Regions from separate parts of the Homo sapiens genome. Here region 1 is linked to region 2. Evidence: fine-mapped expression QTL. A gene starts in region 2. The other region holds a variant in brackets. All regions are shown on one strand. Distances are from middle to middle. Region 1 has its middle 29 kb from the start of LITATS1. Region 2 holds the start of LITATS1 (lncRNA induced by TGF-beta and antagonizes TGF-beta signaling 1).

Region 1 (8,327 bases), 29 kb before region 2:
TCACCCTGTTTTACTGTTTCCTCCTGTGCTTAACCTTTTAACATGCATTGTAGGCTGGATGCAGTGGCTTATGCCTGTAATCCCAGAACTTTGGGAGGCCAAAGCAGGAGGATCACTTGAGCCTGGGAGTTTGAGACCAGCTTGAGAACACTGCAACATAACCCCATCTCCATCAAAAATAAAAAAAATCAAAAAATTAGCTGGGTGTGGTGGTGCACAACTGTAGTCTCAGGTATTCAGGAGGCTGAGGTGGGAGGATCACTTGAGCCCAGGAGTTCAAGGCTGCTGCAGCCCAGGCAACAGAGCGAGACTCTGTCTAAATAAATAAATAAAATAATATTGAAACGATCGATTTTGTTTTGTATATTTTAACACAATTTTAAATTTTTAATTTTAAAAAAAAGCACTAGTCTGGGCAACATAGTGAAACCCCATCTCTAATAAAAATAGAAAAATGTGTGGTGGTGCCTTCCTATAGTCCCATCTACTGAGGGGGCTGAGGTGGGAGGATCACCTGCGCCCAGGAGATCGAGGCTGCAGTGAGCCGTGATCATGCCTCTGCACTCCAGCCTGGGTGACAGGGTGAGACCCTGTCTCAAAAAGTAAATAGATAAATAAATAAATACAAATAAAAGTTTTAAAAGAAAAAAAAACCCTCCAGAAAACGAAAAGCTTGATGCGACTCTGAAGTCTAAGGAGAGGTGCTTCGAAGCCCGGCATAGCGGTGGGTACAGGCCATCTCCTCACCCCCACAAGTTGTCCCCAGGCCACGGGTACCACGTGACGCTGCTTCTCTGTGCCCCACCTCACCATGTTGGGATCCAAGTGTGGCTCATATTTCTTCTCAGAGTCCATTTAAAATGACTTTGAACCCCCAAAACCCAAACCAAACATGGTCTATTTCTCCATGAGATTCTAAAACTGGCAAAAATGTGGTTTAATTCCTCTCCACGCCCCAAGCATTGGCCAACAAGCCTGTCTAGAGTAACGAGAATGTTCGACATTCTATTTGACTAGTCTATTTGACTATTGCTTAGGGCCCAGGCTCTGTAAAATTAGATGTTTACTTGTAGAAAACTGGTAAGGGGCAAGTGATTTCCATCCACTAGAGAAAATAATCCCAAAAGGTTATGGTTTTAATGTCCTATAGGCTATCAACCAATTTCATATCTAATTTAGTATCTTATTCCATCATCATTTTTCATGCGAGTTTCTCATATTCTTCTTTGAACCACCTTGTTTAAAGATTCTCTCATTGAGCTAAATAATATTTTGATGGTGCTCACTGTGTATTGCATGAGAATTATGGTTTTAATATTTTGAGAATTATACTTTGGCATCTGGGGGATCCAGACAGGTGCTTGTATGTTCCACACACAGTCCTGGGGCCACTTCTCAACTCACTGTCTCACCGCTCCTTCTCCTGCCGGCTTCTCTTGCATCCCCTCCGCTCTCCCTCTCTCTGTCTCTCTCTCTCTCTCTCCCTCCACTCTCCCTCTCTCTGTCTCTCTCTCTCCCTCCACTCTCTCTCTCTCTGTCTCTCTCTCTCCCTCCACTCTCCGTCTCTCTCTCTCCCTCCACTCTCCCTCTCTCTGTCTCTCTCTCTCCCTCCACTCTCCCTCTCTCTCTCTCTCTCCCTCCACTCTCCCTCTCTCTGTCTCTGTGTGTGTGTGTCTCTCCCTGTCTGTCAGTCTTTCTCTCTCTCCCTATCTCTCTCTCTTTCTCTGTGTCTGTCTCTGTCTGTCTCTCTCTGTCTCTCCCTCTCTCTGTGTTTCTATTTCTGTCTGTCTCTTTCTCTGTCTCTCTCTGTCTCTCTCTCTCTTTCTCCGTGTCTGTCTGTCTCTCTGTGTTTGTCGGTGTCTCTGTCTCTGTGTCTCTCTGTGTCTGTCTCTGTCTTTTTCTGTCTCTCTCTGTCTCTGTGTGTGTCTGTCTGTCTCTGTGTGTGTGTGTGTGTCTGTCTGTCTCTCTGTCTCTCTGTGTGTGTGTCTCTCTCTGCCTGTCTCTTTCTGTCTGCCTCTTTTTCTCTCTCTGTCTCTTTCTCTGTCTCTGTGTGTGTATGTATGTCTGTCTCTGTTTCTGTGTGTCTGTCTGTCTGTCTGTCTGTCTCTCTCTCTGTCTCCCTGCTCCCCCACCCCCACCACTGTCTTTCCTCCTTCTGTCTTCATTTGCTGCAGTCAGGGTTCCTACACGGCTACACTGACAGCTACACAGTGTTCCCTTGGGACCCTGGACTGTACACCCATTCTCAGGGTCCCTATTGTATGGGAGAGCACAGCCACCAATGAAAGCTTCCTCAGGCCTCCCCACACCTGAAAATCCCTGTTCTTCTCTGCTCCCACCCAGGCCATAAAACCAGGTCACATCCATAGCAAACTCTGCTTGAAACGCAGTCATTATGAAACAGAATATTTAACATCTCAGTTTGCATTCCACCACTTACAGTTCTTCCAGGGCTCTTCCCAGACAAGCAGGTGGTGTTTGCCTTATTCCTATAAAGGACCTGTCCCAGTGATTTTATTAAAATGAGAGGAGAAGAGGTTGGGTACCGTGGCTCATGCCTGTAATTTCAGCACCTTGGGAGGCCAAGGTGGGAAGATCCCATGAGACCAGGAGTTTGAGATCAGCCTGGGCAATATGGTGAGACCACCATCTCTACAAAACTAAATAAATAAATTAGTCAGGTGTAGTGGGTCATGCCTGTAGTCCCAGCTAGTTGGGAGGGCAAGGTGGAAGGATCATTTGAACCCAGAAGCTTGAGGCTGCAGAGAGCTATGATCTCACCACTGCATTCCATGCTGGGTGACAGAGCAAGGCTGTCTCAAAACAAAAACAAAAACAGAAAACTTAAAAATGAAATAAAATAAGGGGTGTGCTTCAAGTTCACATGTGTCTACACCCCTAAAATTAACATGATTTCTAGAAAACAACTATCCCCAACTGAGCTTCATTAGGTCGGAAAAAAAAAAAAGACCCTCTTATTCAGATAACCTGCTACAATATTTTAAAACTGATTATTGCCATTATAGAAAAAAGCTGGCTGGGGCACAGTGGCTCACGCCTGTAATCCCAGCGCTTTGGGAGGCCAAGACGGGTGGATCATGAGGTCAGGAGATCGAGACCAGCCTGACCAGCATGGTGAAACCCCATCTCTACTAAAAATACAAAAATTAGCCAGGCATGGTGGTGCGCACCTGTAATCCCAGCTACTCAGGAGGCTGAGGCAGGAGAATCGCTTGAACCCAGGAGGCAGAGGTTGCAGTGAGCCGAGATCGTGCCATTGCAAAAAAAAAAGAAGAAGAAGAAAGCTTTAAATTTTTATTATTTTGTATCTGACATCTTACTAAACTTTTTTTTTTAAGAGACAGGGTCTCTTCCTGCAGTGTAAAAAAAAAATTAATTAAAAAAAAAATAGAGACAGTCTTGCTCTGTGACCCAGGCTGGTCTCCAACTCCTGGCCTCAAGTGATCCTCCCACCTCAACCTCCTGAATAATATGCACCACCATGCCCAGCTAACTTCTTTTCATTTTTATAGAGATGGGGTCTCACCGTGTTGCCCAGGCTGGCCTCTAACTCCTGGCCTCAAATGATCCTCTCACCTGGGCCTCCCAAAGTGCTGGGATTACAGGCATGAGCCACCAGGCCTGGCCTAAACTTTTCATTTGCTATAATTAATTGTTTTTAGTTACTTTCATTGAGTTTTCTAGTTATAAAATTGTGTCTCTGGCACATGATGACAGTTTTCCCATAAATTTTGAAATTGTGTTTTTTGTCTTATCACATCAGCTGTGATGTGTGTTCTTTGCTGTGATTAAATGTGTTAAGCTTTTGAGCGGCTATAGGGGAAGAAGATGTATTGGCAAGGAAAGAGGCTAGTGACTAAGTAGCTAAAAAAAAAAAAAAAACTATGGTAGTAGTTTGAGTGTGGATTGATGGGACAAGGCCTGGCCCAGGATCATGGCTGCAAAGGAAGAACTACAGAGAAGAGAAATTCTAGATGATGAATCAGCAATGAGGGCAGGAAATTGAACACAACTCCAGGTTGGCACATCTGAAACCCAGTGGTCTACCTGAGCAACCAGGAATAGTAGGCATCCTGGTGGGCTCCCAGCACCCATTTCACCTGCCTCTGGTACCACAGTGATTCTTTCAGTGATGGGCACTTTATGCAGAACTAAGGCCTGGCATTCCCCCCGCTCCTGACCCAAGTTAGACCCATCAGAAGTGCAGCTCAGGAATTGTGCTGAATTTTTGGCCAAGGAGAAGCCTCTCTCTCTCTCCCAGGATTTAGAGGGAAAAGCCTAGGAGAAGCAAGCCTGAGCCTGAGTAACAAACTCTGGATCAAATCCCCTTTGAAGTTCGTCTTACCTATTGATATGGTTTGGCCGTGTCCCCACCCAAAA[CT/C]TTTTTTTTTTTTTTTTTTTTTTGAGACAGAGTTTCCCTCTTATTGTCCAGGCTGGAGTGCAATGGCATAATCTCAGCTCACTACAACCTCTGCCTCCCTGGTTCAGGTGATTCTCCTGCCTCAGCCCCCCAAGTAGCTGGGATTACAGGCATACGCCACCACACCTGGCTAATTTTTGTATTTTTAATAGAGGTGGCATTTCACCATGGTGGCCAGGCTGGTCTTGAACTCCTGACCTCAAGTGATCCACCCACCTCAGCCTCCCAAAGTGCTGGGATTACAGGCGTGAGCTACCACGCCCGGCTCTTCTTTTTTTTTTTTTTTTTTGAGACAGAGTGTCACTCTGTCACCCAGGCTGGAGTGCAAAGGCATGATCTCAGCTCACTGCAACCTCTGCCTCCCAGGTTCACACAATTATCCCGCCTCAGCCTCCCGAGTAGCTGGGACTACAGGCATGTGCCACCACACCTGGCTAATTTTTTTGTATTTTTAGTAGAGACGGGGTTTCACTATGTTGGCCAGGCTGGTCTCGAATTCCTGACCTCGTAATTCACCCGCCTCAGCCTCCCAAAGTGCTGGGATTACAGGCGTGAGCCACCGCGCCCCGCCTCCAAAATTCGTTTCTAATTGTAATCCCTGTGTGTCAATTACGAACTGGTGGGAGGTGATTGGATTACAGGGGTGGTTTCCCCCATGCTGTTCTCATGATAGTGAGGGAGTTCTCACCAGATCTGATGGTTTAAAAGTGGCAGTTTCCCCTGCTCATTCTCTCTCTCACTCTGTCTCCCACTCTCCCACTCTCCCAGTCTCCCCATCTCTCTCCCTCTCTCCCCCTTGATCCCTCCCACTCTCTCTCCCTCTGCCTCTCCTTCTCTTTACCTCCCTGTCTCTCTCCCTCTCTCTCTCCCTCCCCTCTTCCCTCTCTCCTCTCTCTCTCTCCTTCCCCCTCCTGCCATCTTGTGAAAAGGGTACTTGCTTCTCCTTCACCTTCCGCCATGATTGTAAGTCTCCTGAGGCCTCCCCAGCCATGCAGAACTGTAAGTCAATTAAACCTCTTTTGTTTATAAATTACCCAGTCTCAGGTAGTATCTTTACAGCAGTGTGAAAAAAGACTAATACACCCCCAGACTTCCAAATCACACGGACCACACATTCCTTTTACTGGTTAATCCAAGTTGCAGTGGATCTCCTGTTCCTTTCCCTGTAAGGAGTCCCAACTGATACACTGGGATTGGCAATATTTTTAACAGATACTATAATTCTCTTACAATGTATTCATCTGAAAAGAGGTGTGAAGGAGAAAAGTAATTAGAATTCTCAGTTTATAAACATTTCCTAAAATGTGAATTCAAGAGAAAAATTAGCAGATATTTTAATTGTCTGTTCTATCTCCACATTCTCACACTTAATCTACCTACTCTCTAAATGTATTAATTAACATTTTCATAAACACTCTTCCAGCTTACAACGCAACTTCACACATCTCGACTCACTTGGTTCCCATAACAAACAGGAGAGATGGGCGGTAACAGTGAGCCCTCATTTTGTGCAGTATGCTAGTTTGTAAGACCCTTTCTCTTACGTGATTTCATGTGATACTCGAATGTCAAGCTCTTGCAAGTTCTGGACTCCAGAAAAACTGATGTAGTTGTTCTCTTGGCCCACAGAGAACTGTTTTGAATTTCTGTGTCTTCACTGGTATCACTCGGTCAATACTGTTCTTCCTGACCTTGTTCACCAGGTGAATTCCCTATTCGTACTTAAAAGCCCATTTCAGACAGGGCACAACTGTGTCTCTTTCCCCAGGGAGGTGTGGGCAGGCAGTGAGGTCTTCAAGAAGTGTTTTGCCTTTGCCAGATGTCAAGGTCAGCCAGCCAGCTGTACAGATAAATGGTCGGGGGGGAAGGGGGGCTTTGGCCAACTTTTTGTGGTCTGGAATAAACAAAATCCATCATCAAACGAAAAACACCAGCTACTCCACCAGCCCCCTGGCCACAAGAACCTACTTCAAGCTTAGCCAGATTCACTCTTTGTTGTATGAAGGGAGAAGGGTCAGTGCCAGCCTTGGCCTTCGGCCATCCATATTAGTTTTGTGCTACTGGCCCTTGGGCCAACCCAGACAGTCTGTAGGCCTTCAAACAGGCCTCAAAGAGAGGAACTCAGACAGGTTCTCAGATTGCTCTCAGAGAGACCATCACCTGGGTTGTCTGACACACCTTGGATGGACTTTGACAGGAATGGATCGGCACAGACCTGAATTAGGAAGCCCTTCTTCCTCTGACCATAGATGTTCCCTCAAAGACACCCTCCTGAGTGACACACACCCCGAGGGAGTCGAAGCAGAGCAGGAGTTCCATTAGTACTGGCACCCACTGGCCATGCCCCTGCTGGAGGTCAGCCCGGGGCCCACAGTCTGCACGACTCTGGGAGTGTATTTTCAGGTCTGAAGGCCTGACTGGGGAGGACTAAGGATGCTGGCGGTGGCCATGGCAACCAGCTCAATCTCCTGACATTGGGCAGGTGATGCCCTTGGCCTCCTCCATCTTTTTGCCACTCTGGGGGTTCCTGTAACCAGAGTGGTCCTTCCCATAGAATGAAAGGTCAGAGGACAGAAAGGGTGGGGAGAACGCTGCCCCACTGGGGGACAGAAAGGGCCAGTGTGGGAAGGAAAGAGATGGAGGGAACAAAAGAGGTGGCCTGAGCCCTTTGCCCCGAAGCTGGGAGGCCTGTATTCCTGGGAGGCTCCTGGGGCTGGCGGGAGTCCTAGGGGGCTGTGGCACCATATCCCTCCCTATATTTATGGGATCTAGTTGTCACTGCCAGTCTGAAATCTCCTTCCTATATCCTTAGCACAGTTGGGTCTATATTGGGGGGCTGCTGATGTTGCCACAACTGAACCCCTCCACTTTCCCAACCTGCTCCTCCTCCAGGCTCTCCAGCTCAGAGAAAGGCCCCACCATCATCCCTGCCTTCCCTCCCCACCCCCAGCAGCCACAGTTCACCTTAACCAACCAGCCTGAAGTACTCAGCTCAGCCTGCAGGGATGCCAGCACACCTGGCGGGACTCTCCTTTCCCTCCCACCAGCCTCCAGAGTCAGTGTCCCTGAAGCCACCTGGAATCACATCACCTTGCTCTGAGCCTGCAGCAAGTCCCCATTGCCCTGAGATGAAGTCAAAGCAACCTGCCACTCTTCACAAGCCAGCCCCGACTGGTCTCTCCAGACTCATCTTCTTACCCCTACTTCCTTCCAGGCCAGATTCAGCCACCTCAATTTCTCAGCTCCCTCCCCACCCCGCCCTTGCCCGGACTGCCTCTTCTCCAGCCCTGTTCACTCTGCCCTTGCCAGTTCCACAGAGCCATTCTCTCCCTGCAGCGCCACCCAGGCATGCCCCTGCTCCTCAGATCTCCTGTGGTATCTTCACCATTTCTACCCCAAACACACCCTATGCCGGGTGACACCCACCCTGAGGGAGTCACAGCAGAGCAGGATTTCCATTAGTATTGTTTGCCGGAATGAAGTCATTCATCCAGGTATCCAGCATCTATGCAGCACTTGCCACACTCCTGGTGCGGTCTGGGCCCTGGGGCATAGCCATGATGAAGATGAGGCCCTCGTGAGTAGGACTCAGATTGCGTCAGAGGATAACTATCCGAATGAATGCTGGCCCTGGCAGAGGCCTTAGCTACTTCCTAATGCTTCTCCAGACAACAGTGTCCAGGACCCCAGGGCTCCAAGGCAGCCTCCCCCGCCCCTCCACATTCTCAGCCCCCACTATCGCCTGCCATCTGAATGTGCAAGGTAGATGTGCACACCAACCCCTGGGCATGGGTCCTGGGGGTAGAGCTGGGTGGGGAGCTGAGGCTGGCATCCCTGTATGTGCTAGTGCCCGACCTGGGTGCACACAGCTGCCAGGGAGTGGGGG
Region 2 (8,327 bases):
GTATAGTTACTATTCTTCTCTTTCCCTACTCTATTATTTAGAAGCAAGTCCTGAGTCCAGTGTACAGGAAAGGGAAGGGAAAGGAATAATTAAGCTCCACCTCCTAGAGGAGAAACAATCTGCATTCATTATTGGAAATTCTTCTGTAAGGAAGACTTGCCTCTTCTCCCCCAGTAGGTTATTGATTCAACAATTTATTTATATCAGGGCTGGGTATGGTGGCTCATGCCTTTAATCCCAGCACTTTGGGGGACCAAGGTGGAGGACTATTTCCGGCCAGGAGTTCAAGACCAGCTTGGGCAACATAGCGAGATCCCCATCTCTACAAAAAAAATTTTTTTAATTTGCCAGGCGTGGTGGTGCACAACTGTAGTCCTAGCTACTCAGGAGGCTGAAGCAGGAGGATCGTTTAAGCCCAGGAGTTCAAGGTTACAGTGAGCTATGATCACGGCACTGCACTCAAGCCTGGGCGACAGAGCAAGACCCTGGCTCTGAAAACAAAAAAATTATTTATATCAGTATAAATATTTATTTTATACTTTAGGTTATAATTCAATATTATCCTATTATTTATTCCCTTGCTCAGTTGCTCCAGCTTTGGCCATAGGGAGCTCTTCTGGCTCCTGGATCCCTTTGACGCACTCCCATCCTTTTGTGTTTTGAGCGCTTCCTAAATCCCTGGCACCACAGCACACTGCCGGCTCATCCTTTCCCTGTCCCAGCCCTAAAATCAGCCATCTCTCCAAGGAAATAATGTATTTTTAATACAAGTTCTCCAATTATCTTGTCAATAGTCCAAATATATTGCACCGCATTTGAATGCATGATTTAAAAAAAAAAGAGTTAATTTGTTCAGTTACCGTTTAAAACATACATTGATTTTTGTAGCCCTGCTGTGACATGTCTTTTTGAAATATACCAGGAGTCTGGCCGGGAGCAGTGGCTCATGCCTGTAATCCCAGCACTTTGGGAGGCCAAGGCGGGCGGATCACGAGGTCAAGAGATCGAGACCATCCTGGCTAACACGGTGAAACCCCGTTTCTACTAAAAACACAAAAAAATTATCCAGGTGTGTTGGCAGGCACCTGTAGTCCCAGCTACTGGTAGTCCCAGCTACTCGGGAGGCTGAGGCAGGAGAATGGCATGAACCTGGGAGGCGGAGCTTGCAGTGAGCTGAGATCGCGCCACTGCACTCCAGCCTGGGCGACAGAGCCAGACTCCATCTCGAAAATAAAAAATAAAAAGAAATATACCAGGAGTCTCAAACATGGGAGGGATCTGGTCCTTTCTTCACTTCTAGGAGGCCTTGTTGAATTTAAACATCACCTCAGCAGCCACTCCCTTAAGGCTTGAGGGCAGCCTGCCCAGCCTTTCTACAGAGGTAGCCCAGTTCCCGGGTCCTCCCCAGGCTGAGCTGCCCAGTGAAGCAACTGAAAGCCAAGGTCATTCCTGGGACCTTTCCCTCTCCAACCTCATCTCCCAACCCCCCACCACCCTCAGGCAGTGACCAGTCCACAAGCTTTGCAGACCCCACCTACGCTGGCTGGGCACAGGCAGATAGATGGTGGGAGGCCAGGCAGGCTCCAAGAAGGAAATTAGCCAGCCCAGCTGCCAAGACAGGCATACGAGAGGCAGAGGGGTTTGTGTGGGCTCGGCTTCAGAGAACTCCTGGGGATTAGGGCCAAAGTTTGCAAAATCCAGCTGTAAACGGAGCAGGGGTTCCCCAAAGAAGCCGTGGGTTCTGTAGAGGAGAGTCGGCTTCTTGGGAAGTAGCATGAGCCGGAAGACAGCGAGACTGTGGCTCTCTCTGGGAGGGCAGGGAGCAGCATGACTCATCGCCTAGTCCTGCTGGCTCCTACTGGCACAGGGCTGGGCAGCAGAGGGTCTGGGAGCAGGAGCAGAGTCTGGTCTTGTTGCAGCTCCAGAGGAGGTCTCAGGCTGGCAAAGACAATCTAACACGTTGGGACATAGGCAGGGTGTTGTGGGGACACTTAGGAGGGTACAACCAGCATCAAAGGAGTCTTGGCTGGCCTCACAGAGGAGGTGACATCATCCAAAAGATGAATGGAACTGGCTAGGAAGCAGCTGGGTGGGAGAGAGGGAAGGGCACTCCAAGCCAAGGAAGAAGCAGAGCAGAGGCCCGAAAGTGTCTGCAAGGCGCTAGCTGGTGCCTGCCACCCAGTGAGCACTCTATAAATGGGAGGCATTATCTCTATGATTGATTAGTATTGTCATTATCATTATTAACCTGGACACATCACTTAATGTTTTTACTATCTTAAAGGTAGTTGCTATAGCGAATAAATGCTTAACATAACTGAGCTCTTCTCATCTGTAAAAGGGACTGTTGTGAGGTTAGGGGTGCCGCCGGCACCGCACTCAGCTGGAGTGACAGCAAGCATGTGAGGTGCCCAGCATGGGATGTGAGCTGGCATGCAGCAGGGGGCCTTGTGTTTCCTCTCTCCTTGGGTTGCCAAGCCCCTGGAGCTGCTGTGCCTGGGGAGCAGAGAAGGGGACACTTTGGGGTCTTCAAAGATGACCAGGCAACAAAGCAGGAACACCGCTAGGTAAGAGCAAGCAAGCCCAGAGGAACAGCCTCAGGGTCCAGATAGAGACGTACACGCCTGCCTCCCTGGGGTCTTTGGTGGCCTCCCGAACAAGCAGGTGTGGATGGGGAGATGGACTGCCTTGGAGAGAGCTACATGAGTTCCAGCTCCACCAGCCCCCAGAGCCTGAGCAGGTGACTTCACCTTTCTGAATCTCTGAACATCCATTTCCTCCACTGTACAATTTCATTAAGATACATACAAGAATATCCAAAGCACAGTCTTTGTAATAGAAAAAAAATCCTAGAAACAACATCCAACAGCAGGTGACTGAATAAGTAACCAGTGGTATATTCATAAAATGGGACACTATTCAGTAGTAAAATAAATTACAGGTATGCAGGCAATCAAAATGGATTTTTAAAAATATAATGCTGTATGAAAAAGGAAGTCACATAATTATGGAATGACTCCGTTTACACAAAGTAAAAAATAGCAAAACTATACAATATCCCACTTAGGGATGCATACAGAGGTGGTAAAACTACAAGAAAAAGCAAGAGAATGACTAGCACAATTAAAGTTCAGGAAACTAGTTCTTCAGGATGTGGGCAGGAGGCTGTGATGGGGGCACCCAGAGGGCCTCAAGGTACTGGCACTGGTCTATTTTTTAAGTTAGGTGATGGATACATGGCTTTTTTATTATTACTATTATTCTTTAAGCTGTACATGTACAGTTGTGTCTATGGTGTCTTTTACAATAAACAAGTATTTATTATAACACTAGCACTTATAGGATACATGCCTATGATGAGGTAGAGAGAATGTAACAAAGGACTGGCACATAGTAAGCACTGGTGGCATGTGGCTCTGTCCTCCAGCGTGTGGGCTCTGTGTTTTCTCTCTCTCTCTCTCACTCACACACACGCACGCACACACACACACACACATAGGAAGCCAGGCTCCCCTCTGCCCTCAGTCACTCGTGGTTCACAAAAATGGCAAATAATAGGAGCACTAGAATAGGAGCTCTCCATCCTGGTTCGAGTCTTTCCAGCTGGGGCAGTTTAGCCTTTGCAGAATTTCTCAAGGGTAACATCAGCATAATGACCTCTGTCTGTAAGCCCGTGAGTGTAAGCCTGTAAAGTGCTGTGCTCATGCGAGGGATCAGGTCTGACCTGGGAAACTAAAAGCATCTTCATGGAGCAAGGGTGCTCCTCCAGTGGGGGCGCTCAGTGAGTTCTGCGGTATGGGTGACAGTATTCTTGTGTGGACAGTATTCATGTGGTGATTGGGGTAAATGGCCCTCTTTTGCCTGGTTTTCTGCCTCGGTCATTGTGCATCTGCTGACTGAACCTGCCTTTTGGTCCTAGTAAAGTACAGATTTCAGGAAAAGTGTACCTGGCCCCGGGGGTGGCCAACCTCTGTGTGACGGCTTTAAGCACAGTGTGTCTTGAGGGGGCCTGACTCCATCTGAAAAGTGCCTGTCTGGATGTACCTGTCTATAACCATGGACCTGCCTCCAAGGTGCGTGGACCAACCTCCGCGTACCTGATTCACTCGATGCGCACCTGGCCGTACGTAGCTTCATCAGGCAGGGTGTACCTGTCAAGTTCTTAGGTCCGAGTGTTCGCGGCTTTACCTGTCCTGGTACCGCCGTCCGCACCTCGGTCAGTGCGTCCCCGGCAGGTGCGTGTACCTGATTCAGTCCGTGCTTATCTTGCGCATACGGGCCGTTCAGTGTCCCGCTCGGAGCTCGTCGCCGCCGCAGCCTTGAGGCTCCGACCCCCGCTTGGGCCCCGTCCGGCGCGCAGCGGCCGCGGGGGCGGGGCCGCGACGCGAGGAGCGGAGCAGGAAGGGGCGAGGCAGCCCCGCCCCCGGGGCGGTCTCCCGGGACGGCCCCGCCCCTTGCCCGCTTCCGCGTCAGTGCCTCACCACCACCTGCCCGCGCGCCGCCCCATATAAAGGCGCCGCCGTCCTTACCCCCAGGACTCGGCCCCATGGAGACGCCGCCGGCCGCCGCTGGCGCATGGCGGGGTGAGGCGCGGCGGGGAGGGTGCGGGCCTCGGCGGGGAAGCGGCAGGGAGCGCTCCGGCGGGGTCCGAGCCGAGCCGAGGGGAGGGGACGGGAGGGGACGGGAGGGGTGGAGAGGGGAGGGGACGGAAGGGTCGGGGTCCTGTTCCCCGGCCCGCCGGGCCTCAGGACCCCTCCAACTTTGCCCAAGTTGGGAGAGCCGGGGAAGAGCACCAGGTTCCTGATCGGGATCGCGGGCCGAGCAAGCGCGGGTCTCGGGCCGGGACAGCCTCGGCGTCACCAGCTCCCGGCAGCCAACCAAAGTTTTCCAGCAACTTTTCTCCCCACGGGTCACCCCAGAAACTTGCCCTCCCCGGCTCCGGGAGTCCGGCCATGGGCCTTGCGCTGCCTGGGCCTGAGCTCTGAGTGCCGGACGGGTGGGCGAAAGTGGTGGCCTCAGTGGGGAAGCCTTGGGCCCCGCAACGCACTTCCAGCCCCAGGATTCCATCTGAGAGCCCCGTCCCTGCCTTCTGGGTCCCCTGGGTTGGCGTGGGGGTTCGAGGCTTTACAGCTGGGGTAGTTCCAGTCTTAGTTCAGACTAAGTTCCGATCTTCGAGCCACCAGCTAACAGCTGGATGACCTTGAGCACGTTTTTAATGTCTGTGCCTCAGTTTCTCCCTTTATAGAATGGGAATGGGAATGCCTAGCTGGGAGAGCTTTTGAGAGGACAACCTGAACTAATAACACGATGCAGTGTGTAGTGCCACCAATCCCTCATCCTGCTGGATGTGGTTTTGGGAGGGAGGTTAGGAGAGAGCGCTATTCACCGTCCCTAACCCTGTTGGTTGTTCAGTAGGAGCTGTGGCGCGGGGCCTTCCAGGAGTCTGAGCTATGAGTGGCCCCTGTGGAGAGAAGCCTGTCCTGGAAGCCAGCCCCACCATGAGTCTGTGGGAATTTGAGGACAGCCACAGCCGTCAGGGCACCCCAAGGCCGGGTCAAGAGCTGGCCGCTGAGGAGGCCTCGGCCCTGGAACTGCAGATGAAGGTGGACTTCTTCCGGAAGCTGGGCTATTCATCCACGGAGATCCACAGCGTCCTGCAGAAGCTGGGCGTCCAGGCAGACACCAACACGGTGCTGGGTGAGCTGGTGAAACACGGGACAGCCACCGAGCGGGAGCGCCAGACCTCACCGGACCCCTGCCCTCAGCTCCCTCTAGTCCCGCGGGGTGGTGGCACCCCTAAGGCTCCCAACCTGGAGCCTCCACTCCCAGAAGAGGAAAAGGAGGGCAGCGACCTGAGACCAGTGGTCATCGATGGGAGCAACGTGGCCATGAGGTAAGTGTCACTTCTGTGGCCAGGACACATGAGGTTCGCATCTCTCCTGTGGCCAGGACACATGGAAGGATGACTGTCTCTGCAGCTCTGGTGGGCTGGAAGAAGTGACTTCCTTCTTAGGGACTGGTCTAGAGGGAGGGAAAGCCTTTTATGAGGCTAGGGTCGCGCTACTGGTAAGTGACAGAGGCAGGGTTCCAGCCCAGGTCCCTCTGTCCGCAGAGCTTACCTTATGCTGTGGGTCCCTCCCTGAGGCCAGCACTGTGTCTCCACTCCTCTCCTGTAATGTGAGGCAGGGCTGTAAAGGGGACCAGCCCGTGGGCAGCTGCTCACTCACCCCTCGGAACCTGATCTCAGGTGGGTGTTGTGAGGAGGGAGTGTGCGGATCCCGGAGAGGAGCAAGCGTTCAGGAACCATAGTAGTGGTAGTAGGCAGTGGTAGTAGCAGTTGTTGTTGTTATTTCAGGGGCTGGGCTTCTGAGGCCTTCTTGTCTCAGACCTGGGCTCCCACGAAAACAGGTCCAGTGACTGTGTCCAAGAGTGACCTCAAGGCTGGGTCCAGCTTTACATGGGTTGTGGGCAGGTGGCCTGATGCTCTGGCCTCAGGCGAGCTGCAACTTGGATCCCTACTGACTCAGCTGAAGCAGCCTGGGCTGGACCAGTCTCTGGAGGTTCCCCGGGGCCAGAGCCAGGACTCAGCCCCCAGTGACTCCCACCCCCATCCCCCAGCACAGGAATGGGGTGGGGAGGTAGGGGCAGAGAGGGAAGCCAGGGCTGCTGCTGACCTTGGGAAACCCAGACTTCTCCCGTCAATCCAGGCTCCACCCTCTGGCCCCACTTTTTTCCCAGTTCCCTCCAAGGCAGGCTGATGAGTCAGTGCTGGGTGGATGGCTCACAGGGAAAAGTTCCTGTTGGCATGGACGGGGAGACCCCAGACACAGGGTTGAGAAGGGATGATTTTCTGGCTGCCCTGAGGGAGCTCCTAGGTGGGCTGCCCAAGGCTGGCATGACATCAGCCTCTGCCCTCCCTAATTTGTGGCCCCTGTGGGACAAGTTCACTGTCCAGCTGGCCCTGGCCCAGCTCAGCAGGCATGCAGCTGAGTGCTCTTCCCTCCTTCTGTCACCTTCAGGCCAGTCTTCCTCTCTCTGACTTGGGCTGAGCCTGGATGGGAGGCTGAGAAAATCCAGTTTCCATGCCAAGAGGCAGCAGGTCACAGCCCATGCTTCGAGATTAGAAGGGGTCCCTCTCAGTGTCCAGCCTCATGTAGCTGGGCTAGGAGCTAGGTTGGATCTGTGTGACTCCTTCCTCTGGAGGTATGGGCCAGGAGCGGCTGAGCCCTGGGAGCAGCCATATGCAGTATGTGTTTGTATCCAGAAGGAGGAGGGACATGGGAGGAGGGGCTGTGATGAGGGGTGCTCAGAGGAGCCTGCTCCTGAGAAGCAGAGCCACGCACCCACCTCGGGGGTTTCTGAGCTGGGGTAGTGGCAGGAGGGGAATTCCAGCCTCAAACTTCCTGTCTCAGCTGCTACTCGGTTCCTGCCCGGCCACCCCCCCTCCCCAGGGGCAGGCGGGCTAGCCCCCCCATCATATGCAAATCATGGGGAAATTCACCTCTGTTTCCTTCTAAGGGAATTTTTTTCCACTCGCCAGGCCCAGCCCAGGCATATCTTTTCACCTGGGGAGGCTGGCCCAGCCCTGCCTTCTGTCCTGGGGCAGGAGCAGCCTAGCTGGAGTCTTCTACACACACATCCTATCAGTGTCTGCTTAGCCCGGCTGGGGGACCCTGACCTTACAGGCAAAGAGAACTGGAATGGGGGCAGGGATGTCTGGTTTTCCTGTGCCAGCAGCGCTTCCTCCAGTGCAGTGAAAGAGACTAAAGCTAGCTGTAGGGGGGCACTCCAGGCCTCATGTGCTCTACCAGGAGGAGGGCTCTGATAGCGCCCACTGATCAGTTTTTCCATCTGCTGAGGGAATATTCAGGTGCTAGGGCTGCTGAGAACCGACTTGTCCCAGCCAAGATTTTCAGTGCCCACAGGCAGTGCACTGCCCTGAGAGCCCTGGCATCCCATTAGTTCCCAGTGCTCCAAGATACTAGCCTAGGATCATGTGCCCGGAGGGAGGCAGGTGGGCGGATACATGCGCACACTGCATACCTGAGACAAGGAGCCAGGCCTGGGATGACCCAGCTGCCATGGTTTTGAGAGGCAGGCCAGAAGGCCCAAGGAAGGGGGGTGATGTGATGGGGGAAGCACTGGGCATTGTGAAGACACAGACCAGGGACCTGACCTATTGTGGCAGGTCAGGGAAGGCTTCTCAGAGGCAGTGACATCTCACAAGGGTTCTGAAGGAAGAGCAGGAGTTTGCCAGCAGCATTGTTTCTCCCGTTCGCCACCTGTCTCTCATAACACACTTTGTTCAAACTCAATTTTGGGAGCTT

What was found. PIP is the estimated chance that this variant, and not a neighbour inherited with it, causes the effect.
Region 1: its variant is fine-mapped to the expression of LITATS1 in CD8 T cells (CEDAR, PIP 0.94).

What each region holds. Positions count from the first base shown.
Region 1 is chr1:37,440,900-37,449,226 of GRCh38, forward strand. No RefSeq gene overlaps it. Among named protein-coding and RNA genes, the nearest start is that of LITATS1, 29 kb to the right of the region's middle. The variant CT/C (reference allele first, on the strand shown) is at 4,402.
Region 2 is chr1:37,470,047-37,478,373 of GRCh38, forward strand. LITATS1 (lncRNA induced by TGF-beta and antagonizes TGF-beta signaling 1) reads right to left here and starts at 4,397. Exons shown (of 3, transcript NR_038842.1): 1 at 4,098-4,397. ZC3H12A (zinc finger CCCH-type containing 12A) reads left to right here and starts at 4,534. Exons shown (of 6, transcript NM_025079.3): 1 at 4,534-4,583; 2 at 5,413-5,893. The coding sequence starts at 5,451. RefSeq lists silencers at 3,709-3,808, 4,269-4,728 and enhancers at 5,379-5,478, 7,189-7,488.